2 separate regions of the Homo sapiens genome follow, and region 1 is linked to region 2. The links come from fine-mapping of genetic effects on gene expression. A gene starts in region 2. The other region holds a variant in brackets. All regions are shown on one strand. Distances are from middle to middle. Region 1 overlaps HECA (hdc homolog, cell cycle regulator). Region 2 holds the start of HECA (hdc homolog, cell cycle regulator).

Region 1 (15,423 bases), 52 kb before region 2:
TGAGATCATACCACTGCACTCCAGCCTGGCGACAGAGCAAAACTCCGTCTTCAAAAAAAAAAAAAGTGAGAAGATGTGACATATGCCATGTTTAGAGGCATCAAAGACTTCCACCTGCCCTCTTGTTTCTGCTCTCTGGTGCAATAGAATATCACAGACCAGATACAGATAGTGCCTTTGGCCTGGGGTCCTAGAATAAGAAGATCAGCAAAAAGATCCACTTATGAAACAGGGAGAAAATGTAAACCCAATCCACAGCCTGGAGCTGAGACGCAGCTGAGCTGAAAACCCATGAGCAAGAAATAGATGTTTGTTTCAGCCACTGACATTTGGAGGTTGTTTTCAAACTAATACAGTCTAGAGTTTAGAGGAGAACTCTAGGCTAGATATATCAATTTAGGAGTCTTCACTATATGGTTGTGATTTAAGCCATGAAACAGACTGAGATCACCAAGACAATGATAAAAAAAAAAAAAAAAAAAGAGGGTCAAAGACTGGGCACTGGGGTATTCCATTGTTGAGACTGGGAGAGGAAGAAGGACCACTTAAGGAGGAATTGAGAAGGAGCTAGCCAGTAAGTTAGGAGGAAAACCTGCAACACATGGAGTCCTAGAAGAGGAAGTTATTGTATTAAAAGCTTTGAAGAATTTAAGTATGATGAGGACTGAGAAATGACCACAGGTTTTAACACATGGAGGTCACCAGTGATCTTCACAACAGTAGGGTTTTTTTGTTGTTTTTTTTTTTTGTTTTTTGTTTTTGAGACGGAGTCTTGCTCTGTTGCCCAGGCTGGAGTGCAGTGGCACAATCTCGGCTCACTGCAACCTCCGCCTAACAGGTTCAAGTGATTCTCCTGCCTCAGCCTCCCAAGTAGCTGGGAATACAGGCGTGTGCCACCATGCCCAGCTAATTTTTTGTATTTCTTTCTTTCTTTTTTTTTTTTAGTAGAGACGGGGTTTTACTGTGTTAGCCAGAATGGTCTTGATCTCCTGACCTCATGATCCACCTGCCTCGGCCTCCGAAAGTGCTGGGATTACAGGCGTGAGCCATCATGCCCGACCCACAACAGTAGTTTTAGTGGAGTGATCAAGTGAAAACAATCCTCCTCTTTGTGATCATATTCTACTTATTCATACATTCAGTGACTATTTCTTGAGTATCTCCTATGTGACAAGCACTGTTCTAGACACTTGGTATATATCAGTGAAATAGACTCCCCCAAATCAAACAAGTACCTATGTCCTTAACAGGCTTAGATTTCAGTGGGAAGAGACACACAATAAACAATAAGCATGCTAAATGCGACAGAAGGTGATAATTGTTATTGAAAAGGAGCCCAAAGGGTTGCAATTTAAATAGTGTGGTCAGGGTAGGCTTCATAAGAAGGTGACATTTGATTAATAGCTTTAAAGAGCTGACTTCTTGATCCAAGACTGTATTCAAGGATTTTATTTTCCTCGATGCACTCAGTTTACAGTCCTCAGCTGGCAGACAAGTATGTCTGCAAGACTTGTGACTCCAGAGGGTTCCCAAATTGTTAATTGGTTGAATAAATAAATCAGAAGTAAAAACCCAAGATTCAGCCTCCACTTATTTCACTGTTATACTTAGAATAATCCAATTAGTACTGTGATCTATGAGAACCACTCAACAAAGAAAAATCATCTTGGATTAAGTCCATTGAAGTTTCCTAAGGGATTATCAACTCAAAAAAATGCCATTAATATTAGGTTATTAAAAAATGAATTAACTGTATGCTTAGCTGCTCACAGAAGAGGATAAATTGAGCAGGGATGTTAGGAACTCCAGCTTTGGGAAGTTACTTTCGCTTGACACAGACCTGAAATTAGCCTTGTGTTTCTTAGGAGGCCAAGTGCGCCCTTTTCCATTCTGTCTCGCGTCCCTGTGGTTGCTTATTTAAGGCTGTTGATGTCTGAATGAACTCAACACAACTCCCTGAGTCTCCCAGGTACACCGCCCCACACCCAGGATAACCAAAAATGAATAAGTAACAGAAGTATTCCATACATTGTTTCTAAATTTAAATCATTTGTTGAAATATGTGAAACAGTGTTAAGGGCTAATAATTAGGAACCCACTCATTAAGGTTTTCACAGAGGACAGGAAAGATTTTGGTGAAAAAAATCTAGCCCAGCACTGTCCAATAGAACTTTCTCTAGTAATTGAAACGTTGTATAATGGGTGCTGTCCAATATGGTAGCCACTAGCCACATGTGACTACGGAGAACTTGAAATATCGTTAGTGCAGTTGATAAACTGGATTTTTTTATTTTTATTTTTTTTGAGACAGAGTTTTGCTCTTGTTGCCCAGGCTGGAGTGCAATGGTGCAATCTCGGCTCACCGCAACCTCCACCTCCCAGGTTCAAGCGATTCTTCTGCCTCAGCCTTCCCAAATAGCCGGGATTACAGGCATGTGCCACCAAGCCCGGCTAAGTTTGTATTTTCAGTAGAGATGGGGTTTCTCCATGTGGGTCAGGCTGGTCTTGAACTCCTGACCTCGGTGATCCGCCCATCTCGGCCTCCCAAAGTGCTGGGATTACAGACGTAAGCCACCGCGCCTGGCCAGATAAACTGGATTTTTAATTAAAAAAAAAAAATTAAACTTCATTTGAACAGCAGTATGTGGCTAGGCTGCTGTACTGAATGGCACAGCTCTAGAGGTCTTGATTCTAAGCAATTCTTGTATCTGTCCCCCTTTCTATACAGTACAGGGATTGGGAAACAGGATTTTTAAGGTGTCTTCTTTTTCTGACGTTTTCTAACTTTTTAATCTTAACTACTTAAATAATCCCACACAGGAGCACTGCTATGGTCTGAACGCTTGTGCCTCCTCCTGCAAATTCATATGTTGAAACTCTAAGCCCCAAGGTGATGGCTTTTAGAGGTGGGACCTTCAACACCTGTGAAAAGAAGAGAAAAACAAAAGCAAAAAACAACAGAAGGGGTGGGGCCTTTTGGGAGGTCATTAGATTATCAGGATTCTGATCTAATCAGAATGAGTTTGGTGCCCTTAGAAGTCCAAGTATGCTTTGTTCACACCTTTGCCATGTGAGGACACAGCTAGAAGACATCATCTATAAGAAACAGGCCCTTGGCCAGGCGTGGTGGCTCACTCCTGTAATCCCAGCACTTTGGGAGGCCGAGGTGAGCAGATCACAAGGTCAGGAGTTCCAGACCAGCCTAGCCAATGTGGTGAAACCCCGTCTCTACTAAAAATACCAAAAATTAGCTGGGCATGGCGGTGGGCACCTGTAGTCCCAGCTACTTGGGAGGCTGAGGCAGGAGAATCGCTTGAACCTAGAAGGTGGAGGTTACAGTGAGCTGAGATCGTGCCACTGCACTCCAGCCTGGGCAATAAAGCGAGACTCTGTCTCAAAAAAAAAAAAAAAAAAGAAAGAAAGAAAGAAACAGGCCCTCAACCAGACACCAAATCTGTTGGCACCTTGATCTTAGACTCCCCAACCTCTACAACTGTAAATAATACATTTCTGTTGTTTATAAGTTACGCAGTCTAAGGTATTGTTATAGCAGCCTGAACAGACTAAGAATCACTTTTATTCTAAATGTGTAAGATATGAAGGCAGTTCTTATGATCCAGGTATTTTCTTTACTGTTAATATTTTGACATTTGGTTTTCTGAAAGGAATCCCCAAGGAAGTAGGCACCCAAAACACAAAACTAGGAAAGAAAATTGTCTGAATTCCCCACAGCTGCCAGCACATTTGTTTGACAGACAGCTAATGGGCACAGCCCTATAGTAGGCATTATGGATAGAAGTTGTCAAAGACAGTCCCTGCCCTAGAGGAGAGCCTACTTGGAGTGACATTTACATGGAATCCCATCACGTGACTTCCATAGTACAACAGCTAGCAATATCTCTGTATCCCCCATCTGAGTGACTTCATACCCGACAAGATCAACCTTGCTAAATGCTGACATAGATCCTATAAAACTGTTTTCATCTGGCTCTGACCTCTCTCCCCGCAAACCTCCACAGCTGCAAAGACAATATTGTCTTTGAAGAGGTGAAAGCTTACTTCCTTGGCCCAAACTGGAAATCTGACCTGGAAGTTTGTATTTTCAAAAAGAGCACATCTCTACAAGTTGAGAACTCCATTTATTTCAGACCTTTCTTATTTCCTTTCTTTTGGGTTTAATAATAAATTCTGAAATCCTCAGACTCATAATTAATATCTTGTTAATTAAAATTACACATAAACCAAGAAAACTAAATGCCAAAGTACTTGCTCTAACCTCAATATAGAGGCAGTTCTAATAATAAAAAACACTAATTTGACTATTTTAAATATTCTTCTTAGATAAAATCATCCTTTTGAATTTTAATGCTTAGCAGTTTTGAATAAAGCTTTCACATGTAGCTTAATTTGCTAGATATTTTCTTAGAACTTTCAACTAATGCAAATCCAAACATGCAACATGAAAAACATCAAAAGAGAAATCATAAACTTTTGGGCAACAGAATACGCCTGTCACCTCCTTTGCAATGCTTTTACCCCGAAAGCTGTAATAAAACATTAGTGCTTCTTACACTACACATCATATGATTGCTTACTGTTAAAACCCCAATTCCAAAGAACCACAGGTTATATCCCACCTACATAGAATACGAGGTTAAAGAAATCTGGGCCGGGCATGGTGGCTCACGCCTGTAATCCCAGCACTTTGAGAGGCTGAGGTGGGTGGATCACCTGAGGGTCACGAGTTTGAGGCCAGCCTGGCCAATGTTGTGAAACCCCGTCTCTACTAAAAATACAAAAAGATAGCCAGGCATGGTGGCACATGCCTGTAATCCCAGCTACTCAGGAGGCTGAGACAGGAGAATTGCTTGAACCCTGGAGGTGGAGGTTGCAGTGAGCCGAGATCATGCCATTGTATTCCAGCCTGGGCGACAGAGCAAGACTTCGTCTCAAAAAAGAAAGAAAGAAAGAAAAAGAAATCTGGAAAACAATTGAGATTCCAACACAATTTTTCAAAAAGCTCTTGCTTCCCGGCATACATACAAAGTGCTACATATGCATTAATAAATCTAACAAAAATGTAAATGAGAGACGTTGGGAGTGAAATTTCTCTTTCAGAAATTTTTCAGTTCAATAAAATTCTTAATACAAAAATGCAAACCTTATAAGTCAAATGCTTTGTCAGAATTTCGATTAGATTTTTTAAAAATAATCTACACTTAAAATTTCATGTTAGGGTAGATCACAGATCCTGTTTTAGATAAGAGAAACAAATGGATCATTTTTCCATCCAAAGAAGAAATAGGTTTTTGAGCACAGGTCTCAGTTTGAAGCTGACCCAACTAGGGAAAAAACAAATACGGCTGTCACAAAATTTCTATCCATCCTTATTAAGACAGATTTTATCTGCCTGCCAGTTGCACAACTTTCTCAACCCTCTTCTCATCTCACTGCCTCACTGAGGCCTGGTTTTATCTCCCTTTCCATCAACGCACCCATCGATTTGAGAGACATAAAGTAAAGCCACTCTCAGAAGCTCCTGTATCCATGACACAGGATCTGCAATTCCTCCACTGCTATTAGAGAACTCTTCAGGAGCCTCTTAGTAAGAAGGCCCCTGGGAAGCTTTCTTAGGGGTTACCACCTAACTGGTTGGTGATGGAAAAGGCCATCAAACATTGAGCCATTTTCCTCATCGGTAAAATAAGTGTTGAGTCAGACAATCTTGCCCTAACATAAGAATGCTTCCAGAAATAACATAAATGATCCTAATACGGAACATCTTTGGCACTTACTCCATGCCAGTGACTGCAATAAACACTTAATTTAATGATTTCATTTAACACCCCCAGGTAGGGACTCAATATTTACAGGTGAGGGAAGTAAGGATTTAAACGAGCTTGAGCAGTAGAATCTTCTCTCAATCAACCTTTCCTTAACCAATCCAGCAATTAACTGCCTCTAAATTGCTTTGTAAAGCCACACTATGATGAATGACCTCGGCCAGATGAATGCTGGCAGCTGGGAGCCTCCTCGCTATCAGGCACCATCTGCATATGGTTTCCCCCAGCAGAGTTCTGTACTTACCAAAAGTTACTCAGGTTTATTCCCAGACTTGCTTATGCCACAGTTACGTTTGCCATTGCAATGATGTAATTTAATAAAAAAGTGCACAAACCAATGAAATATAATTATAAAAAAAAAATACTGTTTTGATAACTCAGTAGGATGCTTTGAGCAGATGAGGCAAATCATATACACAAAATACTGAATTAAACATGGGGAAAAAAAAGCAAAAGATTTTAAAAAATGGAAATCCTACAAGTCTAGAGAGGTTCTATATTTATAGTATTTCTCATGTGTCATTAAGTTCCAATTCCACTTTAAAGAGAACCAAATAGGAAGCATTCTTACAGTGCATCATAAATGAAGGTTTGCAAGAAAGTGTAGTCCTACAACTAGAGGGTCTAAAGAACCAAATCTGTCAAATGAAAGTGTATTACTGATTTAAATATAAATAAAATGTTTATGATATACAAGTTATCCTGGGTAGGGAGGTGCAGGGGGGAGAAGAGGGTATTTTTTTCTGGCTGATGGAGGTATAATTGACACAGAATAAACTAAACATATTTAAAGTATACAATTTAATAAGTTTGACAGATGTCTACATCTGGGAAACCATCACTACAATCAAGACAGTGAACACATCAGTCACCCCCAAATTCTCTCATGCCCTTTGCAATCATTTTCTTTCTCTTCTCATTAATATTCCTCCACCCATCTCCAGGCAACCACCAATCTGTCACCAGATTCATTTGCATCTTCTAGAGCTTTACATAAATGGAATCATACAGGGTGTAGTCTTTTTCTCTGGCTTCTTTCACTTTAATTATTTTGAGGTCCGTCCATGGTGTTGCATGTATGAAGAATCTGTTCCTTTTTATTGCTGGGTAGTACTCTGCAATTGCATATTGCAATTTTGTTCATTCTTCTGTTGATGGGTATTTGGATTGTTTCTTTTTGGGGCTATTACAAACAAAGCTGCTACAAACATTCATGAATGAGTCCTTGGGTAGACATATACTTTCATTTCTTGAATAAATGCACAGGAGTGGAATGGATGGGACATAGGTTAGGCACATGTTTAACTTTTTAAGAAAACTGTGAAACTGTCCCACCAGCAGTGTAATAGAGTCCCAATTACTTCATATCTTTGCCAGCACTTGATATTCTTTTTAATTTCAGCCATTAAAATGGGTGTGAAGTGGTACCTCATTGTGGTTTTAATTTGCATTTCCGTAATGACTAACAATATTGAGTACCTTATGTGTCATCATTCCTTTTTCTGTTAACGTGTTTGTTCAAATGTTTTTTGGGGGAACTTTTTATGTATTCTGGATACAAATCCTTTTCTTCCAGTCTGTGGCGCTTGTCTTTTTATTCTCCTAACAGTATCTTTTGAGAAATTCTTAATTTTAATAACATCTAATCTATCCATTTTTGGATTTTACATCTGATCCATTTTGAGTTAGTTTTAAAAATATGGTGTAAATATGGATCCAGATTGGGTTATTTATATATTTTTGCATATGGATATCAAATTGTTCCAACTCCATTTGTTACATTATCCTTTATTCAATGAATTCTCTTTGTACCTTTGCCGAAAATCAACTGATTATAGGGTCAACTTGTTGATCTTCTTGCTGATTGTAGGTAATTATTTTCTCAACTAACTTCTTTTTTGATTTGCTGACTAACTAATGTCTGGGTTTGTCAAGGAGCTTCTACTATATCCTGATGGTTAAGAAACTTGTTGCAACAGGAAGGGCAACAGAAAGGACAAAGTAGGAAAGAGAGAGATAGGCAGGTAAGGATAAGTAAGATAGGCAAAACTATCACAACAGGTAGAAGAAAAAGGACTAGAAAAAAAGTGAAGGACATTTTTTTAAATGGCATTTTCCCATCACCAAAGACCACCCTTAACCCAGTATGACTCTATCCTATGTTTTTGTGTGTTTTGTTTGAGACAGAGTCTCGCTCTGTCGCCCAGGCTGGAGTGCAGTGGTGCGATCTCGGCTCACTGCAAGCTCCGCCTCCCGGGTTCACGCCATTCTCCTGCCTCAGCCTCCCGAGCAGCTGGGACTACAGGTGCCCACCACCACGTCCGGCTAATTTTTCACATTTTTAGTAGAGACGGGGTTTCACCGTGTTAGCCAGGATGGTCTCGATCTCATGACCTCATGATCCGCCCACCT[C/A]GGCCTCCCAAAGCGCTGGGATTACAGGCCTGAGTCACTGCACCCGGCCACAACTCTATCCTGTGTTTTGAAAACTTATGTCTTTAAAGTGAACTGCATTTATTAGGTAATTCATTTGTTTTCATATATTATTCATCAAAGGCATATGCTACTGCCAGTGTTTCTGAGCAGCTTGATAACCAAGATTGCAGTAACTCCTGCCAAAAGTAAACTGACCTTTTAGGTATCCTGTGCAGCCTTGTGGTGGGTAACTTTGTGATCTCCATTAAGTTTTCTGAAATATGCACAGTAGCCCCCAGGACTCCCACTATCCCACTCCCTGCCCAAATCATTCTCTTTTCAGAACCATGGGGTTCTGGAGCCTCAGAGGAACGCAAGCCTATAGGCTTCACCCGGCTTTACTTCCCTCATCAATCACCTGCAGTGTCATCAGAGCTTCAGAAAAATATGCAATTTGTTAATGTGATGAAAATAACAAAAAGGCATAAAGCGCTTATTCAACCAATGGTTTGGCAGTAACTTAGAATACTGCTAATTAGCAAGGGACAGCCCCTAAACCATAAAAAAATTGTCATTCCTTAAGAGAAACATGTAACCAGCACTTTTTCCAAGACTATATGGAACTCCAATAAACCCTGATCAAGTCAAGCAACCCTCAACAGTCTGGGATACCAGAGCTTCTAACAAGATTGTGAGAAATTGAAAATTAAACACACCTAGAGGAACTGTTAGAAAAGTTAGTCAAAAAGGAAAACCCTGCCCAAACTGGATAGATCAATGCTATCAAATCCGACAGCTTGACATGTTTGAATCCAAAAATAACTCAAAGCTAGATCCCCAAGTGAGTAAAATGATGAATTCGTGGTGTAGACTGTGAAAACGTCACCTTATACCCAGAGTTCTCCTTAAGCAATCATCTATCTTAACAAAAGAGAACAGATGTCAACAAATTAATGCATTAAAAGATGAGGTGAAGACACAACTATTGATTTCAAATTTTTTCCCTTTGAGAAAGTGTTCTTTTTCTAAAATAGGGGATGCTTCCAATGTGCTCATCACTCCTATGCAGAGGGCCCAGCTAGGCCTCACAGAATTACTTCTATGTTGGCGCCTGTGTTGCTGAAGCAAGGGCTACTATAGCTTTTAAATCTACTCCCTTGTCACAAGCCCAAATTATTTCTCAACTGAAAACAAGGTGCCCATCCACTGATACATATATTGAGCAAATCTGTAATTTCCACACCCACAAGGCTCCTCTCACTTACTTCTGGGGACTCCCTGCTCTGTACAATGTCCAGACACTTCTCCTTCCATGTTTGTGTATTACACCCAACCTCGTAGGAGACAAAGTAGCAAACATAAGCAGCCATGTCTGCTCATTTCTGCTTGCTAACATAATTTCACGAAGCGCTGACTCCACAACAATGTGCAGCTCTCTGAAAGCATGCTTTGAGGACAGTGCAGTATTAGCAGACGGTCCTCCAAGTCTCTTGCCTGGTCACTATATTCTTTAAAAGATAAATGACCCTAGTCCTTGTGTTTTCTAACATATAATGTCTGACAGGCTTAGTGATTATGCTTCTGTAATCTACAACTAGATGTACTCTTAAACCCAAACTCTGATGTGATTTTGCACGTACCGAACCTCCAGCATCTGTATATAAGCAGTGGGTTGAAGTATCTGTGCTGGAGCAGCCTGGCAGAACCTCTCTCAAAGGCTGCTCCTGGGCTACAGGCCTCAGCCTACAGTCTTCAGTAAGACTTCTGAATAAAACAACCTTTAATTATTTAAAAGGTTGCTATTTTTTTCTTTAGTCAACATCAAGTTAGATATCTTATTAACATATCTGGTAAAAGTGTACATGGCTGTAATTGACATTTTCTTTCCTTTACAGAGAGTCTAAGTGCCATTCATATAGGCCCCCCAATTTGTTACCCTTAGCATCAGAAAATGAAATCAGTAAACACCAAATGAAAGCAACAACAAAAAAATTAACTTCAGGATCTAAAGTTCACATTTAAAACAGCTTCAAAAGTAACATGCACAACTGGCAACGATCTCTTCAGACTACTAATGTCCAGATCTGACAATTAATATGCTAAAGGTGGCCAGTATGCAAGTGGTAACAGAAAACAGAAGGGAAAACCGAAGAAAGTTCATGAATTCTCTACCTCTGAGCAAGAGTTAGCTAGCTGAGTATGTTACCGAATCTCACTTTGAGGACTAGGAGTGGGAATCCAGATTTAATTCCTAGTTAGTCATTAACTATATGAACTTACTTAGATTTAACTTCTTTGGGCCTCAGTTTACCTCTAAAATGAGTACAATTGTCAATGAAATTCACAAACATTTACCATGTGGGTAAAACAAAAAGCATAGCCCTTGCTCCAAATTCTGACACGTCTAAATTCTATGACTGTTTTGGCTATGACTTTCTCACTCTTAGAATAACTGGGTTTATTAGGAATTACAATTAGTTCTATGCTTGATTTAGATATCTAAATTTTTAATCAAGTGTAACAGAACCGCCTGAGATGGTGTTCATCACCAAGAAATGGTGCTACGGTAGCCAATTCCATTTGAACACTGATGAATGTAACCAGTGTTGTTTTACTGAACTTCATGAGACAAACTGCTTTATTTTTACTTTTGCTGTTTCTGAGGCTTAGCAATGCCAGGTAGAGCTAATATAATTACCACAATGCTAAAAGTTTCTACTAAAGAAAAAATATGCCTTAAAAATACATTACTATTTCAAATATTACATCTGTACAGCACTTTATTGTCCTCAAAGGTAGTTCACATTCAGCAGGTAAGGTTTACCTCACTGCAGAGTTGAGAGAACAGAAAAAGAAGAAAAGCTCAAGACAAGAATTTCTTCCCCCTTTGAAAATTTAACCCTTTACTAAACAGCCTAGATAATTAGCAATCTAATTGCTGCTGAATTTGCCAAATTTAAGTCAAAACAATACAAGCAAGATCTAAAGTAATGGAAACCACCAATAAGAAGTAACAATTTTCTTCCATTAAACTAATTGCTTACCAATCACCATTTAACTTCTTTTTTCTGCAACTTTTTTCCTTCTACAGTATGAACTGTACCTTCCTTAAAATTTCAAAGGAATTTTGCTGACCATAAATTACATTGGTAGAAATCATATCCCAAGTCCTTTATAAGGCTTTAAATAAAGTCAAATTTATGCCTCAGACATCTGCATTAGTAAGTAGCAACACAGGCTTTGAATCCACTGGCAGACTCAAGACTTTCTTTACCCAGGTTTCCCCAACTTATCTTGTGTTCTAATGTTTGTGGATTTCAATCTATTGGCCAAGAATGATATTTGAATTGAAGAGGACAAGGAGATTTAAGGATAAACTATTCTTGATCACAGTATATGAAGTCAGCAAGACGTTCAATTAGACTTCTTTGCTTATAATGAAGAAGCATACGATCAAGTCTTTTCATGATGAAAATTGTTACAGGCCTAGGAAACAAAAGCATCTGTGGAATAATCTATTGTCAAAAATAAAATCAGATCAAATTTTAAAATTGTATGTTTATTGTGCACATAAAAGAACAGCTGGCAAACCTGGAGACCTCAAACCAAAATGGTTAGAAGTCTGCACACAGCAGTTATAGTACCATTTATAAAGCATAAGGGAGAAAGTATTTTCACCCTCTTTTATAACTGGCTATTACATGTTAACATTCTTTATAAGGAAAGCAGACCAGTTGTTGATTTGTCTACACAGTAGGCACTCCCTTATCCTTAGGGGATCCTTTCCAAGACCTTTCCTATACATTCATACCTATGATAAAGTTTATAAATTAAGCACAGTAAGAGATTAACAATGACTAGTAATAATATAGAACAAGTGTATGAGTACACTAGCATTACTCTTGCACTTTGGGGTCACTTTTGGGTAAAATAAAGGTGACCTGAATACAAGCACCGCAATACCGGGACTCATCTAGCAGCCTCCTAAGTGACTAATAGGCGTGGGACGTCTACAGCATGGATCCACTGGACAAAGGGATGATTCGCCTGCTCAACAGGATGGCACAGGACTTGAGATTTCATGATGCTACTCAGAATGGTGCACAATTTAAACTATGTGAATTGTTTCTGGAATTTTCCATTTAGGGTGACCATGGGTTACTGAAACAACTGCAGAACGCAAAACAGCAGATAAGGGGGGATTACTGTATGGCTAGTAAGTTTGATTTCACCAAATCATGCCGACAAGGCCTTGCATTTTGTTTTGATTAGAACTAGCATTTCAGGGAAATCAGGACGACTTAAGTTTTGGCTATGTGGCTATGGGTGGTTGACCTTGGGGGTCTATCTAATCTTTAACACTATACTATCTATCAAATAATAGAATTCCCTAAAACCGGAACGATAATTTTGGACTATTCGTATAGAATCAACTTTGTCATACTGAAAGCTTTTATTGCAAAGTGAGTTTACATGTGATACATGACGCAAGCAGCAAAAAAGTTGGCAGTTTTTTTTATTAGCTGCAGGAGTGACTTTGAAATGGTTACCTGAATAGTGATCAAAACCTCAGAAAGCTTTCTCTTCATCTTTTCTGACCAGACAATCCCACTGCTCAAAAATCTCAATGAAAAATAAAGTGACAAACTAAAGACAGAGTACAATGTTAGTTTCTGGAATTTTATTATTTTTAATACATACATTTCACAAACAGAAACCCTCTAAAACCACACACAATTCCACAACCAAATGTTTCAATTTTATCAACATTCTTTAACTATTTACACTGTCTTTCCTCAACAAAAGTGCAATCCAAGACATCTTGACAAGAAATCTTTACTGACAAGAATTTATTTTTGAGCTGGTTTTAATGGAGCCCATCCATTATATTTTCTTTCAATTACCCGGAATATTCAGTGAACAGGACATAGAGATGAACTGGGTTAGGCAGCATCCTATTATAGGAAATAAAACACTAAACAAGAACACTTTCTCCTCACTTCCTTCCCAACCTCCAATGAAAGTTACTCAACAGCTGCTACCAGGACACAAAACAGAAAAGCAAACTGGAGTTCCTGACCTAGACACAGGAGAACAGACTGTGTATTAAGCATCAGTCTTGCAGGACTAAACAAAAGACTTAGCAAATTAGTTCTGGTGCTCTAATAAGGTACATATCTGTCTTATCTGTTAGTTTTAGAGTTCAAATACCTAATAAGATTCTTTTTAGATGAGTTAATTTTCCCCCAACATATATGAAAATACCTTTTACTCAGAAAATGAACTTCTTGAACAAAACCTAGAAGTTAAAGGGCATTTAAGGAAAGCTCCTCTGTAACTAGAATGGGATAATTCACCCAACTCCCCAACTTCATGGCACCATGTCTATCTTTTAAAGTATAAACCCATTATATCAACTGCTTCAAATGTAACAAGAGAATGAAGAGGTGAGATGGCCTGAAGAGAAAACAATCAATCAGAAATTGTCCTCTCACTAAAGCAGATCATTGTATCTGCTCAAGGTATAAAACTCTTAAAAATAAATAATTAAAAAATATTAAGAATAGACGAAAAATCACTTTGAAATTATTAGTCACTCTTAAGACTGCTTCATTTTACTGAACACTATTCATCAGAAAAACAAATTGGATCTCTTGGGTAACTAATATCCTTTTAGTATCCTAACTACAACAAAAATACTAACCTTTTTTGATATATTCCAATTCCAATCAAAGTATTCAGGGCAAGCTTGGGGTATTAAGGTCAGTAGATTTCCAAAATAAGATTTATCTTCATGGTGTTGAATATTCGATTATATTTTATTCCCAAATCAGCCAGATTTTCCCTCTAGACAAGAATGAATCGTCTTAAAGGCAAAAGATATTCCCAGATATGCTTCATGCTCTTATGCTTTTCTCTTTAAGTAACATCCACAGAATCCTTACTTTAGCATCGAAATAATGTCCAAGAGTAAACTTTACCCAATTACAGTAAAACCTCATCCTATTTATTGTTCAGGGGGTAGAAAGCCATCTAAAAAGGCAACATGGAACACAGCATACACTACACTGACGGCAGTTCTAAATTCAGGAGCTTGCTGAATGCAATGTATAGGTCAATTGTAAGCTTCAGAACAACAATATAAAGCAGGTTTCACTATAAAATTTTAGGTGGGTTAAAGATCAGCATCATAAATATTTTACTATTTAAATTCAGAAATAAAATCCAAATGGTATTACGAGGACAAGAGAAACTTAGCACTTTTTGCATCTGGGTACAGGAGAGAATCAATAAGGAGATAGTTAATTCACCACTACAGCTTTGTGCATTAAAGACAAGTTTGCAGAAAGCTATGTCTTACAATCCTCTTTTAGTTGCATCAAACACTGTCAGTTCAATGACTTTCTACTTCTTATAGGCATTTTATGCATTTCTTCCCACTGAAATGTTTTTTCAGATGATCAAACACCAACCTAGATGCAGCAAACCAAATCATCCAAACTGAAAGATGAATGATATTAGTGAATAACATTGGTTCTTTAATGCTGTATTGTTTCAAACAAAACATCAAATACTTCATATAGAACTGAAACTTGGCCAGGCACAGTGACTCACGCCTGTAATCCCAGCACTTTGGGAGGCCGAGGCAGGCAGATCACAAGGTCAGGAGATCTAGACCATCCTAGCTAACATGGTGAAACGCTGTCTCTACTAAAAATACAAAAAATTAGCCGGGTGTGGTGGCACGTGCCTATAGTCCCAGCTACCTGGGAGGCTGGGACAGGAGAATCGCTTGAATCCAGGAGGCAGAGGTTGCAGTGAGCTGAGATCGCACTACTGCACTCCAGCCTGGGTGACAAGAGTGAGACTCCATCTCAAAAAAAAGAAAAAAAGAACTGAAACTCACGTGCAATATTGCCTAAATACTTCTGAAAAGAAAAACCACACAGTTAAAAAAAAAAAAAAAAAAGTATAAACCAAATGAGTAACATAAAATGTTCACATCAACCCCAAATTTGGCTATTCATAAAATGATTTTCTGCATTCTTTTAGCATATATGCACATCATACATGAAATTATCAAATTAATTTTTGAGAAATCATATTCCAATTCTATAAGGGTATGCGACGTCAGTCTATTTAAAGCATTAAAATCTACTGAACCAAA
Region 2 (15,423 bases):
TCTATGTGTAAAAATCAGATTATAAAATATATGATCTTCTTTTTGCAGAAACTATATATGTACTTTTAAAAGTTTTGTGAGAAAAAAAATTTAAGGCTGCAAGAACATATATCAAAATATTAATAATGTTGATCTCTTAAGTGGTGGAATTATGTGTTTAACCAGAAAGGCAAAGAAAGCTTCTTTTCTAAGATGCTTATTTCATTACTGGTAAAATAATAAAATAACACAATATTTTCAAATAAATAAAGCCCTTAAAAATGCCAAAGAGGGCCGGGCGCGCTGGCTCACGCCTGTAATCTCAGCACTTTGGGAGGCCGAGGTGGGCGGATCTCGATGTCAGGAGATCAAGACCATCCTGGCTAACACGGAGAAACCCTGTCTCTACTAAAAATACAAAAAATTAGCCGGGCATTGTGGCGGGTGCCTGTAGTCCCAGCTACTCCGGAGGCTGAGGTAGGAGAATAGTGTGAACCTGGGAGGTGGAGCTTGCAGTGAGCCGAGATAGTGCCACTGCACTCCAGCCTGGGTGACAGAGCGAGACTCCATCTCAAAAAACAAAAATGCCAAAGAGTTGCTGATCAAAATCAGTTAGGACAGATTTTTTTCTGTAAAGAATCTCTTCTGGTACCTTCAAGTTCTTTAAATTATTCATAGCTAAAAGCCTGAAGTAAACTCATAGGAGGATTAAGCTGCAAGAGATTTTCCCGTTTTATCTCCCGTTTTCAATTCTCCATGGAATGAAATATATTCTTGGACTTACAGGAAAATTGACATTGAAGGTTTAGTTTCTAGAACTTAAGGACAGATCACAGATCCTCTAACAAGTAAAGAATGAGAGAAAGACGAGACTGCGCATAGAGCACCATGAACGGCGCACAGAAGAGCTCTTCACTTTAATACACGAAGTGTACAGGAAGAATCTTTGATGCATGAGGCAATATTTTCTGCCAATCTCCACTAAAAAGGTGGATTTCAAAAGACAACATCCAAAGGCAAATAGTTCTTGAGACCCAAAAAACTGACTTCTAGATAAGGCAAGAAAATGTTTTCTAAGATTATAATGGTAACCTATATACCTTAGATCCTCAACAGATATTCCTTGATTTGAAAATAAACAGCAAGCAAACATTTTTCATTTTCCTACTGATGGATATAGGTAATTTAAATGTAGTAGGAATTAAAGTAAACATCTAAAAAGAAACTATTTAAAATATACTACAAACCTCGGTTATAAAAAGTGTCTTTAGTGGCCTAAATATGCAGCAAAATACAAATCCTGTGCATAGGGAACAGGTGGTACTCCAAAAAAAATCTACTTGTCAACAGATATATGGAATTCAGAATGCGTTTTCCCATGGAAACACTGTTATAATGGTGGTTAATTCCCAGTCTCCTCCACAAAGCCTATTTAGTTGTTAGTGAGAAATATTTATCCCACACCTGTGTTTTATGTGAATGGTACTGGTGGTCTAAATGAAGACATCCATAATGCTAGGGGAATAAGAATGGCTCTCCTTTCACTCAGAGCTGAAGCTTCTCAGCAGAGTCCCTCTCCATAAAGGGTTTCCAGGTAAAGAGATGCCACCCTCAAGGTCATGCTCTCTTCCTGGGGGGAGCCCAAGTCCAAATGACCAGTCAACTGGGAGTTGGGGGAGTGTGTAGAAGGCCCTGCCCCTATTATTTAAGGTGAGATAACTCAGAAAGGCCATCCCACCTCCAGAGCTCCCCCAAGAGAGGATCAACTGGGGTCTCTGTTACAGATGCATCACAGTTCAACTCCTGCTTCTGCCCAATCCTGCTTCCTTCCCTCCTCCACTAGGAATGATGCCAAGAGCACTCTCCAGTAACCTCCAGCACGTGTATCTCTGCTCAGGCTATTTCCAGGATCTAAGACAAACAGCTAATACTTCGTAAGCTGGTACTGTAAGTCAGACACTGTTCTAATCTATCTAATGTATGTAATCTATTTATTTTAAATATATTTAATAGATAGATACAGATATTTTACTACATCTGTATGGGTAGGTACTACAATCCATTTTACAAAGCAGAAACCAAGGCTCAGAGAAGTTAAATGACTTGCCCAAGGTCATTTGACAAGTAATTTGAGAAGCCAGGATTTGAATCTAGGTCCACCAAATGGAAAGCCAATCTCTATGCAAACGAACTCCATCTGCTAGAAACAGTTCCATGAATTAAGGCAGACTCTGCTGCCCACGGGTTCTAGAGGCAGTAAGGAATGAGTGGAGTGATGAACCATGGTCATCCAATAACAGGAATTTATAAAAGTACTTAAGATCCAGGCCCAATGAAAACTAGATATACTATGATCAAGGTTTCAAATATTTTTAGGCCTGATATAAAAATGTAGAGGCCTAATGGAACCAGAATGAAACTACGTATCTACCTTTTGATAACTAGATTCTAAATATAACCATTGGTAATCTTGTATACCTGCAATGAAAATGCAAATGGTATGTGCAGACAGATTACTATGTAGGAAAAAGATGGGGTGGTCTTTTACACCAATCCCTGAAAAATAAGCCTCATAAACTAGTATCTTAAAATTAGTATCTAATAAATGTCTTATTAGCGGTATGATATCCTAAGAATTAATATTAAACTTACTCAAGATGCACAACTGCAGCCAGTTCATCTTCTCCAACCACAACTATACCGCGGCTTCCCCAAGCTCTCCGTAACTAGTAATCTTCCTTTACAGAATAAGTATTTATTTATGCCCACTTGACAAACTGAACAACTAAAAGCTAATATTGCCCTGCTCTGGTGGCCGCACTGCCCAAGAGCTACAAGACACAAAACCATTCTATAAACTCCAAACAACTACAAATAAACACTATTAATTTTAAGCGAAGTCATTAAGTTTGCATGTTTGCAGATGTAGATAGCTGACTTGAACAGTGAAAAACTATTTACAAGTTTCAAAGAATATCAAGTACCTCCTTTCTTGTAATAATTACTTGATTTGTAATTTCTGTAATTACAAAATCTAATGTCACAGTTAAGTAAAAAATTGAAATACACTTAAAACTACTACCGATAATAACTTTAACATTAAAAATCCAAATATTGGTCCTTAGTTGATTTTGAGAATTTACGCATCTCTTGCCCCTTCCTCTTTAAAAATTCACCAGTAACGCCTCTCCCAAACCCCTACCTTATAAACTATAGCTTTAAATAACAAAGAAAAAAACAAAGAAAGAAAGAAAAGAAAAGAAAAAAGCATTTGATTTTGCACCCAGGAGTCCTCAGCATCCAAGTTCAGTTATCATCAACTGCAGAACTGAGGGGGGGTTCCTCACATTAAGGTGAATCATTCACGAAGACTTCACATCACTTCAGAAACAAGAATCAGGCATCATAAAATTTGGCTCACTCCTCTAATATAAGTTACATCCTCTGACCCTGACTATGGGAATGTTGGCCCATTCCTTTTTCTCCCCGCCTTTCACTTAATAAAATAAGCTCCTAATCAGAAACAGCTCTTCACATACACTGTGCTGCTAAATATACTTGAGTCTGCCACTTCAGAGAATAATAATAGGGGCCCCTTAACCAGTTTGTTATGTACAAACTAGGAGGTACAAGTAGCCTAAGAAAAAAATTTCCTCATGCCACCTTAAATTGGACTAATCTTTTGGAGCAAGAAAAAAAAGGAAACTGTGAACTTGAAGCTTCCACATAGGCCAAAAAAAAAAAAAAAAAGGAGCTGGTAGGGGGGTGGGCAGAGCAAACCAAAACCACCACCAGAACAGGAATGCAAGCTCCCTGAGGACCGGGATGTCTCGTCTTGATTACCGCTGGATCCCTTAGTATTGAACACGGTACTTGCAACACTGCAGGTAATCTTTTTTAAATGAATAAACGAAAGCTGTCATCATTGTTCATGCACTCTTTGTGAGAAACTTTAAGCTCATTATATATGTAACCTTTAAAATAACAAGAACTGGGAGCATAATAGGGAAGGGGCACTCTGAGCCTCTCAATAACACTAGGAGGGAGCCAGGGTAATTTTTTTTCAAGTTTACACATGAGGAAATTGAGGCTCTGGAAGACTGACCTTTCCAAGATGATGAAGCTCTAAATGGCTGAGCTAGGAGTCTGTCCTACCCAGAGTCTGAGCACCTTTCTCTCTGCCACATCAATACCAAAATGAAGGTTAAAGCCAGGAGAAAAACAAAAGAACATGAAGAACACAGGCTACCCAAAACTAGTATTCTGAAACATTCACAAACGGGGTAAGTTTGTTTCTGAAAATAAATAAATAAATCTTCCTATTTCAATATTGCAGAGACACAGCCAACGGGGCCTACAGTTCTAACAGGCGACATTCAGCCGCCTATGTTCAGAGCACTGTACGCTGCTTGTAAGAGCAGGTGCCCTGTTTAAAAAGTGCCTGATCTGGCTGGGCGTGGTGACTCACGCCTGTAATCTCAGCACTTTGGGAGGCCGAGACGGGCGGATCACGAGGTCAGGAGTTCGAGACCAGCCTGACCAATATGGTGAAACCCTGTCTCTACTAAAAATAACAAAAATTAGCCGGGCGTGGTGGCGGGCGCCTGTAATCCCAGCTACTCGGGAGGCTGAGGCAGGAGAATCGCTTCAGACCGGAAGACGGTGGTTGCAGTGAGCCGAGATTGCGCCACTACGCTCCAGCCTGGGCGAAATTGCAAACTCCGTCTAAAAAAAAAAAAACAAAACAAAAAAGTGCCTGATCTACATAAAGAATGGCTTCAAAAGCTGACGCTATAAATTAAAAGCCAGATATAACAATTCAAATCTCCCTTCATTAAAATACCTACGTTGTCTTCCTGGAAAAAGTGCCTGACTAGAGGAATTCAAAGAACTGTCCAAATAAGTAAGTGTTTGCCCAGCACCTTATAACGAAAACCATGGCTCTGTAATGAGAACAGAAATCCTGTCACATCTGGGCCAGTTCCTAAGTGTCCCCTCAAAAGGAACATTCAGGCACTACCTAAGATTATGAGGCTTCCTTCTGAAAATGTTAAGCACAATGACATAGAGAATGATTTTTCTTTTCTTTCTTTTCTTTTTTTTTTTTTTTTTTTAACTCCGGGCTGAGAACGGAAGTCAAGTTCAGATTCTCTTCCTTCCTCAAGCAAGCCAAAAAATTAAAGAGCAAACACAGAGGCCCTAAATGTCTCGAGGCCTCTTCACCTGTGGCGATCGACGCAGCAAGCCTGGGTGTGCTAAGAATTGAGGCTCTCTCTCCTTCATTCCGGGGGTTACGGGTGGCCTTGGAGCACCGGGAAGAATTAACCGGTGCCTAAGTTTTCAATCGGATCATTCTTCTCAACTTGGGCGGCTCTTTCCTCCCTTCCTTCCTCCCTTCGGCCCGGCACACACGGCGGGGCAGTGCCAGCGCGGGCAGCAGGCTGGGCCCGAGGGCAGCGCTGCCGCAGCCGGGAGCCCCTCAGAGTGTGGGGCGCGGGCTGCCCCCCGCGCGGACACCGGGCAGGGGCCGCAGATCTGTCCCCGCCGCCAGGCGTGGGGACCGCGAAGGGGCAGCCGCGGCGGGGCGGAGGGGCGGGGTGAGCACTTCCTGACTCTCGCATTGTCCACGCACCGCCCGCGCCACCCAGGGCCCCGCCACCGCGCCGTCCCCGTCGGGGAGGAAGTTGGCGCTCGCCCCGCCAGCCCCGTCTTACCGTTTTTGGCATCGCCCGCGGCCGCAGCCCCCGCGGCGGCCGCAGCGTTCGCGGCGCCAGTCCCCGCGCCTCCGGCGCCCGCCGCGCCTCCGGCGCCCGGCGCGCCCGCCGCCGCCGCCCCGCAACCGGCCGCCGCCGCCAGGGCCCCCCCGGCCGCCGCTCCCGCCGCGCCCGCCGCTGCCAGGGCCCCGGCTCCATTTTCCTGCTCGTCGCCGCTGCTGTTGGCGCGCTTGTTTTTGCGGCCGCCTTTGCTGTTTTTGGGGTTGGGCATCTCGCTCGCTCGCGTCCAGGTAGGTGCCCGGCGTCAGCGAAGGCGGATCCCAGAGGCACGGCCGTTCCCGGCCCTGCGTGAAGCCGGCTCCGGGAAAGAACGGAGGGCGCGAGCCGGCGGTTCCCTCGGCTCCCGTCTAGCCGCACGGCCCGTGCCGCGCCATCCTGGCCGCCGCGCCCTCTCCGGCTTCCTGGAGCCGGCACGCGGCCACCCGAGGCTCGCAGCCGCGCGGGCGCCGCGGGCCCGGGGCGCAAGCGAGACGCTCCCGAGCCGGAGGGAAAAGGCGGGTCTCCGGCTTGTTTTGATTCGGCTGCACTGACACGCTCTGGGCCCGCCCCCTCCCGTGACGACACTGGGGATTCGGCCTGGCCGCGCCCACCAGGTGACCTCACGGCTGACGGGACCGCCCGCGTGACGTCACGCCCCGCGCGGGGCCTGCCCACCTCGAGTGACGTCATCCAGGCGTCCCCACCCGGGCCTCCTGGACTCCCGGGCGTTCATGAGCTGCCCTGCTTGACTTGCTCCACCCGCCAGTGCAGTGGCATGTGGAGTTCTTCGGTGGCCTCCTGGCCTTAATGTAATTGAGGCTTAGAACAGTATGGTCTGGAAAAATAAGCTGTGACTAGAGCAAGAATGGAAAACAAAAGATTTTGGATTAATAACTCATTCAAAGGCTATGCCTTTCAGTAACAGTAATTAAAGAAACAGGGGACCGGGCGCGGTGGCTTATGCCTGTAATCCCAGCACTTTGGGAGGCCGAGGCGGGTGTATCACGAGGTCAAGAGATCGAGACCATCCTGGCCAACGTGGTGAAACCCTGTCTCTACTAAAAATACAAAAAAAAATTAGCTGGGCGTGGTGGCGTGCGCCTGTAGTCCCAGAAACTCGGGAAGCTGAGGCAGGAGAATCACTTGAACCTGGGATCCGAGATCGCGCCACTGCACTCCAGCTTGAGCAACAGAGCGAGACTCTGTCTCAAAAAAAAAAAAAAAAAAAGAAAAGAAAGAAAGAAACAGGGTAGAGTTCCCAGACAATGGGGATGAACACCAGGGTCCTGAATGGGAAGCCTTCACAGTCTGGTGGTGAAAACAATTCACTCAAACAAGACCCATCATCCAGGGATGTAACTAGATGTTGCCTGGACTCTGAAGCAGTCCCTGCTTGGGGGGAACCCATCCCTATGCATAGGGCTGAGTTGTCCTGAAAGATAGTGAAAGATAGGTAGCCAGGTTATGAGCAGTAGGAGATTAGGTGACACCAGTGAAGACAGGCAATATGAGGGCAGGGGACCCCTGGGAAGAGCTCCCCTTGATCTCTTTCTGCAATTCTATTCTACCTTTTCGGCCAACTCCTTCCCTTCCTTCAGGTCTCAGCTCAAATACATCACTTCCACAGAGACCTTCCCAGGAGAGCTGTCAGAAGTTCCACCCTGTTATTTTCCTCCTCCATCTCTAATTATGTTGGCAATGTAGGTGTTTACTTATTTCTTGTATATCTCCCTCTCACTGAAATGAAACCTCCATGGATAGATTTTATCTGCCTTGGGCACATCAGAGAACAGCTGGCATAAATTTGTTGAATGTATAAATTAGGTTCCTTCCTCACGAACTGTGGAGGAAAGACTAGTTTAGCTGACAGCTTTACAGTGTTCCCCTTTTATAGTGTAATCTTTAATTCAGCCCTTTAGTAAAAGCTCTGTCACGGTGTTGTTGTTACCATTAGAGGGTCTTGACTGCAAGTCGTCCAAGTTCTTGGCATTTTGAACAAACAATTGGACCAAACGCCCAGCAAAGCAAGGAAAGAAGAAAGCAGGGATTTATTGAGAATGAAAGTACACTCCACAGTATGGAAGCGGCCCCAGCGGTGGCTCAAGGTTCCGGATGCAGAATCTTCTGAGGTCCAAATACCCCCTGGAGGTTTCTCATGTAAATGAAGTGGTGACGCACAATTAGTCTGATTGGTTGCTTTCGTCAACCAATCAGAGGCTGAAGTGGAGTTAACAAAGGTCACACTTCTGTGCAATCACACTTTTTGCACACTTCTGTTTAAAAAGCAACCAATCAGAGGCTAAGGTGAAGTTACAAAGTTGCACTTCTATGCAAAGACTCCACCCGCAATCAGTCTCATTGGTTGCTGACAGCCAGTTTCCCATCTGCCACGCAGAAAAGGTGAGGGTTTGCAAAGGGAGCAGCTTCTGGTCCTTTTGTTACTCAGGTGTGGAAAGTTAGGGTTTTCCTTTCAATTTAGTTTAGGAAGTGGGGTGAAACGCCCTTAGGTTCCCTGCCTCCAGACTCTGTTCTCTGCCTCATTGTGAACTATACAGATAGACAGGAAAGTACAAGAAACAATACTCTCCCCCACATTCAGGTAATGGAGAGGAGATTCTGATTGCGAGCTCTGGGCAACCATAGCAGAATGCATAACAGAGCCTGGAACGGCAAGAAGGAGCAAGCACTGGATACTCAGGGGAAATTGCTGGTTGGACTCTTTAGTAGAAAAAAAAAGTTGAAATTTTAAATTCCCTAATATGTATTAGAGGATAGTGACCCTTTAGAAGGCCCTATTGATAGATAGATATTTTGTGCTTATATTTTCATGTCTATTTCTCCCCAACCTTGAAATCCCCTAGGTGCTAAGAGAGCAGGGATTGTGCCTAGCTTTCTAACGCTACAGAGTCTGGCATAAACCTTGACCCACAGTAAGTATTCAATAAAAATTTGTTGCATGGAAGATACCTAAAGCACTCTTCTTCTGGCTACATTATTCTGAACCTTAAAGTCTCAGCTAAATCATCAATTCTCTAGGAAATCTGTGACAACCCAAAACTAGACTTGTCCCCAGATACTCCCTGCACCTTCCTCACCATAGCAGCTTACACACTGGGATATTGCTTTGGTGGCCACTTGGACACCAAAAATGAGGGGTGAAAGAGAGAGTGAAGTCAAGAAATTCTGAAAATCAGAAGAAATGATGAAGGTAGTTAATTAAAGGGAGACTTCCCGGGGAGGGCAGTGGGTCCGTGGAGGAAGATAATGAATTACTGTTGCCCATTCAGACTTAGCTTAATTTCATTATTGATACCACTAGAGGTCTCAAAATATGTGGGTGATGTTAGCTTTGGCGTTTCTTTTTTTTTTTCTGGTTTTTTGTTTTGTTTTTTTAAGTCGTGAAGGCGAAGACATTTTAGGTTAGAGTACAAGAAAATTGAGATAATTATTTTCTTGAATAAGCACATTGCTGTCATGCCATATTGGATCAGAGTTAGTATGCATGTACCCTGCAGACAGACATTCACACCAGCTGCCTCCCACCTCTACATAACTGAGAATTAAGAATTGGAAACTTTCCACAAAAATATCCTAATTGGCTCAAAGCACCCAGACATCCAGCCAGTTGCTGTTCTGGTTAATTGTGTGAGCTACCTCCTTCTATTCAAACTGAAACAAAATGAAAAGGAGGAAGGAGAAGCTTGCCACTTCTTCCATGCTCAACCTCGCTAATCTATTTTTAGCCTTAGTCAAATTTGGTGCAGAGGCAATAGTTCCGATTTTATTGCTACAAAGACAATATACTAAAATCAAGATGTTAGGAACAAAATGTAGGTGAAGTTAAAGGACTCCATTTCCTATGTTCTATCCTGCTGTCCTAGCCGTTTTCCCACCATTTCTGAAGGTGAGAGAGAGAGACAGCATACCAAAAGACAAAAGGTGGCAGATGGTACAATGGAACATTCCCCTTAGAAACTTCCAGAAGTATAAAGAACTCCAAGGAACTGAGGAAGCCACTCTGTTCTGTACATCTACACTTGCCTTCTCATTCTTCAATTTCCCTGATCAACTCATGCTCTGATATAAACTTCAAAAAAATTATACCTCTATCCTAGGTTTCCTTCCCCCAAACCTCACCCACCCTATTGCTCACTTCTCTGCGAAAACAAAATAAAGCACAGCAACAAATCAAGGGCATCAAAAGCAAACAATTTACACCCTTAAGAAAGGGGTGGGCTAATCTTCAGGCTGAACTGGAATAAGCAGTCATTGTTTCAGTGCCCTAATTTTGTTCATTTGACATTTTGTGGCTGTCTTCTGAGCTCTTGGGGTCAGCTAAGTTTGGTTAGGTTTAAAGTACAAAATATATGTGTTAAGGATAATTGAAAACTTAGAACATAGGTAAGAAGCCAAATATCCAAATACACCTTGATCGAAAAAATCATATTGGAACTCAGAAGGAATTCTGCAGATAACACAGTAATGCACACAAGAATATGTCCACAATTGAAACATAAGCTAAAAGGTACTAAAGCCTGATCTGCTAAAAAGTCACTTCAAATAAATACACCTGGAGCAATGCATTGTCTTCATGCATCAGTTTTTTCTTCTGCAAATAGCCTTTCCTATGGCCACAGGTTTTCTTTGAGGAATAATGACAATTGTGATTATAAAAACTTTGAAAAAATGGAATATTAAAGCAAATAATAATATTGATTAATAAATTCCATAGATCTACTCTCCCTTTAGGCTGTTCCCGATTACCAATATTAATATTTTTCTCAAATATTTGCCCTTAAAATCTCTTTTCCATCCTTTAGTTGTGACTTTTACATTATTTTCATAATCTATAAAAGCAGTCATAAAAAAGGGTCAGAATTTTTTTCAGTGATCCCTGAACTTGCTGCTTACTCGAACCTCTGTGCCTTCCTTGCTCATACTATTGTCCCAGTTCAGCATCAATACTATCTTAGGCCCCAGTAAACCCGAAAGAACGTTTCCTTCATGAGATTTATTTACTTTTTTTTTTTTTTTTTTTTTTTGGGACGGAGTCTCGCTCTGTCGCCAAGGCTGGAGCGCAGTAGCACAATCTCGGCTCACTGCAACCTCCACCTCCCGGGTTCAAGTGATTCTCCTGCCGCAGCCTCCTGAATAGCTGGGATTACAGGTTTGCGACACCATGCCCAGCTAATTTTTGTATTTTTAGTAGAGACGGGGTTTCACCATATTGGCCAGGCTGGTCTCGAACTCCTGACCTTAAGATCCACCCGCCTTGGCCTTCCAAAGTGCTGAGATTACAGGTGTGAGCCACCTAAGAGGCCGCGCCCGGCCTAAGAGATTTATTTTTATGTTTATTAACTTTGTTTACTGTCTGTCCTTCCACACTAGAATGCAAGTTTCAAGAGGGTGAGGATTTCTCTGTTAATCTTCTGTACCTAAAACAGGGCCTGGCATATAGTTAAGTGTTTAATACATATTCATTCAATAAAAGAGAATGGAGAGGAGCACCTAAAAGAATAATTTGAGCCAGATCTCATGAAGAAAAAAAGAATTCTTCTAAAACCACATTTTTATGTTCAGCTAGCATAATATTTAAACCAAAAAGGGATGGCTCAGTTTGGTCTAGATTTGTATAACAAGAACCCCTATAATAGCAATACCTTCATCAGCAATTGCAGTGGCCATGGAATTATCCATTTCTACACCTTGTATTTCTGATATCTCCTCTGGAGTGTCACTGAAATCTCAAAGATTTTTGTCATCTAGTTTTTATCAATATCCCCTATGTTTATGCCCAATTAAAATCAGCACTTTTCTATTCTGCCATTCTAAAGCTTGACTTAACCACAGTGCTTCTGAAGGCTGTCTGCAAGATTTGACTTAGATAATACAACATTGGCCCTCTCTAAATGCCTCTTTTAATATGGTGCTAATTATCTATTGCTGCCTAACAAATGACCCCACAATTTAACAGCTTAAAACAACAAACATTTATTATCTCACAGTTTCTGTGAATCAGTAATCTTGGGATGGCTTAGCTGAGTCCTCAGAAGGCTATAGTCAGCCAACTGGGGGAGGATCCATTTCCAAACTCAGTCCTAGGGTTGCGAGAAGGATTCAACATTCCTTGTGGGCTGCTGGCCCCAGACCTCCCCTCAGTTCTTTACCACAGAAACCTCAGCCTGGGGCAGCTCACAACAGGGCAGCTGGTTTCATCCAAGGGAGAAAGACAGGGAGCATGAGAGAGTAAACAAGACAGATGCCAATCTTTTTTGTAATCTAATCTCAGAAGTAACATCCATCATTTTGCTGTACTCTGTTTCTTGGAAGCAAGTCATCAGATTTAGCCAAAGCTTGGGTGGAGGAAATTACACAAGGGCATGAACACCAAGGGATGGGGATCATTAAAACCCATCTTAGGGCCGGGCACAGTGGCTCACGCCTGTAATCCCAGCACTTTGGGAAGCCAAGGCGGGTGGATCACGAGTTCAGGAGTTTGAGACGAGCCTGGCCAAGATGGTGAAATCCTGTCTCTACTAAAAATACCGAAATTAGCTGGGCGTGGTGGCACGCACCTGTAATCCCAGCTAATTGGGAGGCTGAGGCAGGAGAATCACTTGAACCCGGGAGGTGGAGGTTGCAGTGAGCCGAGATCATGCCACTGCGCTCCAGTCTGGGCGACAGAGTGAGACTCTGTTTCAACAACAACAACAACAAACCATCTTAGAAACTACCTACCACAAATATCTTCATATACTGCTTGCACTCTAAGTTCTCATTTTCAAGGGCTTCGAGTTTAGTTTATAAGATAAAAAGCATGGAAAAATTAAGACCTTATTCCAGTTCTTCCTTTCCACACTGCTGTTTCAACTAATGAATCTTTGATGATCTTGGATGATAAAATTTCATGAATTTACAATAACTTTTGCAAAAGATCTTTGGCTTAAGTGTTTCAGGCCTCTGTAGTTAAAGAACTATTGACTTTTAGAACAAACACAATCAGTGTAGTTAGTTCATTGTTGGATCTGAGGATCTATTTCAAGAACACCTATTTTTTTTCTAAGTGCTAAGGCTACTGCTCTGCTTGTTTCTGGAGTTAATTTTGATTGATCTTGGCTAGAATTTTCTCTCAAGATTCAGCTTCCTCCTTTATTTCTACTTGGAATGATTTCTACCAAGAATATCCTGAGGAACACTAGTTATATAAGACGTGCCTCTATTTCTGTGGTAAAATAAGTCTAGGAAACACTGTATATTGTATGAGTCACAATATATATTAGCATAGTAAAGATCCTAAAAGTCCAGCAGTAAAGAAACCTGTTTACTCTCAACTTAGAATTTCCCAAATGTATATAACCTATAAATCCTTTTACATGTAATGCTTATTAACATTCTACGGAAGTAGAGTCCTGCTGAATATTTTTAGGGGAAATAATGCCTTGGAACAACAACAACAAAAATCTACTTCTAGCTGGGCACAGTGGCTCACACCTGTAATCCCAGCACTTTGGGAGGCTGAGACAGGCAGATCACTTGAGGTCAGGAGTTTGAGACCAGCCTGGCCAACATGGTGAACCACCCCCGCCATCTCTACCAAAAATATAACAATTAGCTGGGTGTGGTGGTGCACTCCTATAATCCCAGCTACTCGGGAGGCTGAGGCAGGAGAATCTCTTGAACCTGAGAGGCGGAGGTTGTGGTGAGCCCAGATGGTGCCACTGCACTCCAGCCTGGGCGACAGAGTGAGACTCCATCTCAAAAAAAATAAGGAAGAAGAAAAAGAAAAGAAAACAATCTACTTCTGGCACTAGCAATCAGGTGAGTATTGATACAATGGTGAAAAGACAGATACTGGATCCCTCTTGTAAACAACCAGTTCTTTAGAAAACTTCTTGGGAAATATCTTCAAAACTATAAAACGGAAACTGTCAGAAGATATAATACATTAAGTACTAATTCTAAATGATGTAAACAGTTGAACATTCATGGTATTGCTTCCATTTTAAGAAACTTCAAATATGCTGTAATTGTTATAGGTAACAAAAATTTACCATCACATGAACAATCAGTTTCACATTTAGTCCAGTAATAAGTACTGCTATGTATGGTTCTGGAGTTCATTTCAATCAATCTCGAATAGAATTTTGTCTTAAGATTTCCTTTCCTCCTGCAGAATATTTGTTCTAAGTCCTTAAATGCAAACATAGCACTGCATGGATTAAAGATGAACACAAATGTGCTACTCCTCTCTTCAAAAGGTGGAGTCTGTTTGCCTTCCCCTTAAATCTAACCTGGCCTTGTGACTTGCTTTGACCAATTAGAAATGCAGCAAAAGTGCAATTGCTCTAGTCTGGACCCTAAATTTGCTTTTGCTCTCCCAAAAGCCAGCCACCATGCTGCAAAGAAACTTGAGCCAGACTATGGAATGATGAGAGGCCACATGGAGAGGGTGACAAAGACTCCGTCCTTGACCAAACTTGAGTCAGGCCCCTCTGATTCCTCTTTTTGACTAGGCCCCAACCTTGCCTCGTCCTTGGCCTGCTTAGTTCCGTTTTAGCAAGAATCTTGCTGGGTCAATTTCATAAAAATCCCCAACTTTCCGTATGAGATCAGCCTGGCCTGCCTTCAGCAAGAATCCTCTCAAGTCAGTTTGGCCACAATCCCCCTAACCTTGATGTTTCCTCTTAGTAACTGTCTATCCACTGACTCCCACCCCTGCTCCTTGGCTACAAATCCCCACTTTTCCTTGTTGTATTTGGAGTTGAGCCCAATCTCTCTCTCCTAATACAAAACTCCATGGTAGTAGTTCCCCTGAAAAGTTTGCATTACCATCTGTAACAAATGTCATGAATAACATTTTTCTTTAATAAAAGATCATGGACATGTGGAAGATGAGAAAGGATACTTGTGTTCCAGCCCCAGCCAAGCTCTTAGCTTCGTGGTTCTCAACCCCTGGCAATTTTGCCTTCAGGGACATTTAGCAATGTCCAGGGATATTTTTGGTTGTCACTTCTAGCATCTAGTAGGTTGAGGCCAGAGATGCTGCTCAACAGCCTGCAATGCACAGGACGCAACAACAAACAATTATCCAGCCCCGAATCTAGTGCCAAGCTTGAGAAATCCTATCTTAGCTGAATATAGCTGTATGAGTCACCACAGCTTTACCACATGGAACAGATTGCCCGGATGAGCCTAGTCAACCCACAGAATTGTGAGAAATAATAAATAGTTGCTGTTTTAAGCAACTCTTGGGGTAGTTTTAGTGCTGTGCTGTTGCTAAACTGGCTGGGAAGGGATGTGGGAGGGAACTCTGATTTGTAGCATTTCTAGTTGCCCATGGTATAAATACTCCTACTGTGGCCAGTTTTAGGTTATCAGCACAAGCCACTGAACTCAAGGTTGGGAAGAGATGTGCACAACCAGCTCTTATGAGCCAATGGGAAATGATTAAATTGTTATATTATAGTAGGCAACGGAGGCAACATCCCATGTACAAGATCTTCTTATGCCTGAAATTCTAGGTATGGCCACTTCCTATATGCTGTTGATCACCTAGTCATAGTTCTCTACTTCTATATTGTGTTAACATTTCTACTAGAAAATTCTATTTTAAGTGCTGACATACTGATTCTGCAGCCTTCCTGGTTTGGGCCATTTTTTTGCACCATTAAAGTTGCCAAGTTGGGTTTAG

Evidence for each region. PIP is the estimated chance that this variant, and not a neighbour inherited with it, causes the effect.
Region 1: its variant is the best candidate, but not a certain one, in a credible set for the expression of HECA in nasal epithelium (TOPMed, PIP 0.51).

The regions. Positions count from the first base shown.
Region 1 is chr6:139,178,301-139,193,723 of GRCh38, reverse strand. HECA (hdc homolog, cell cycle regulator) reads right to left here. Exons shown (of 4, transcript NM_016217.3): 4 at 12,922-15,423. It also overlaps a transcript of TXLNB not described here. Among named protein-coding and RNA genes, the nearest start is that of HECA, 51 kb to the right of the region's middle. The variant C/A (reference allele first, on the strand shown) is at 8,256.
Region 2 is chr6:139,125,938-139,141,360 of GRCh38, reverse strand. It overlaps HECA (hdc homolog, cell cycle regulator), which reads right to left and starts at 6,281. Exons shown (of 4, transcript NM_016217.3): 1 at 5,694-6,281. The coding sequence starts at 5,964. RefSeq lists enhancers at 5,210-5,329, 6,195-6,489, 7,768-7,817, 14,228-14,729 and silencers at 5,440-5,709, 6,110-6,189, 6,300-6,489.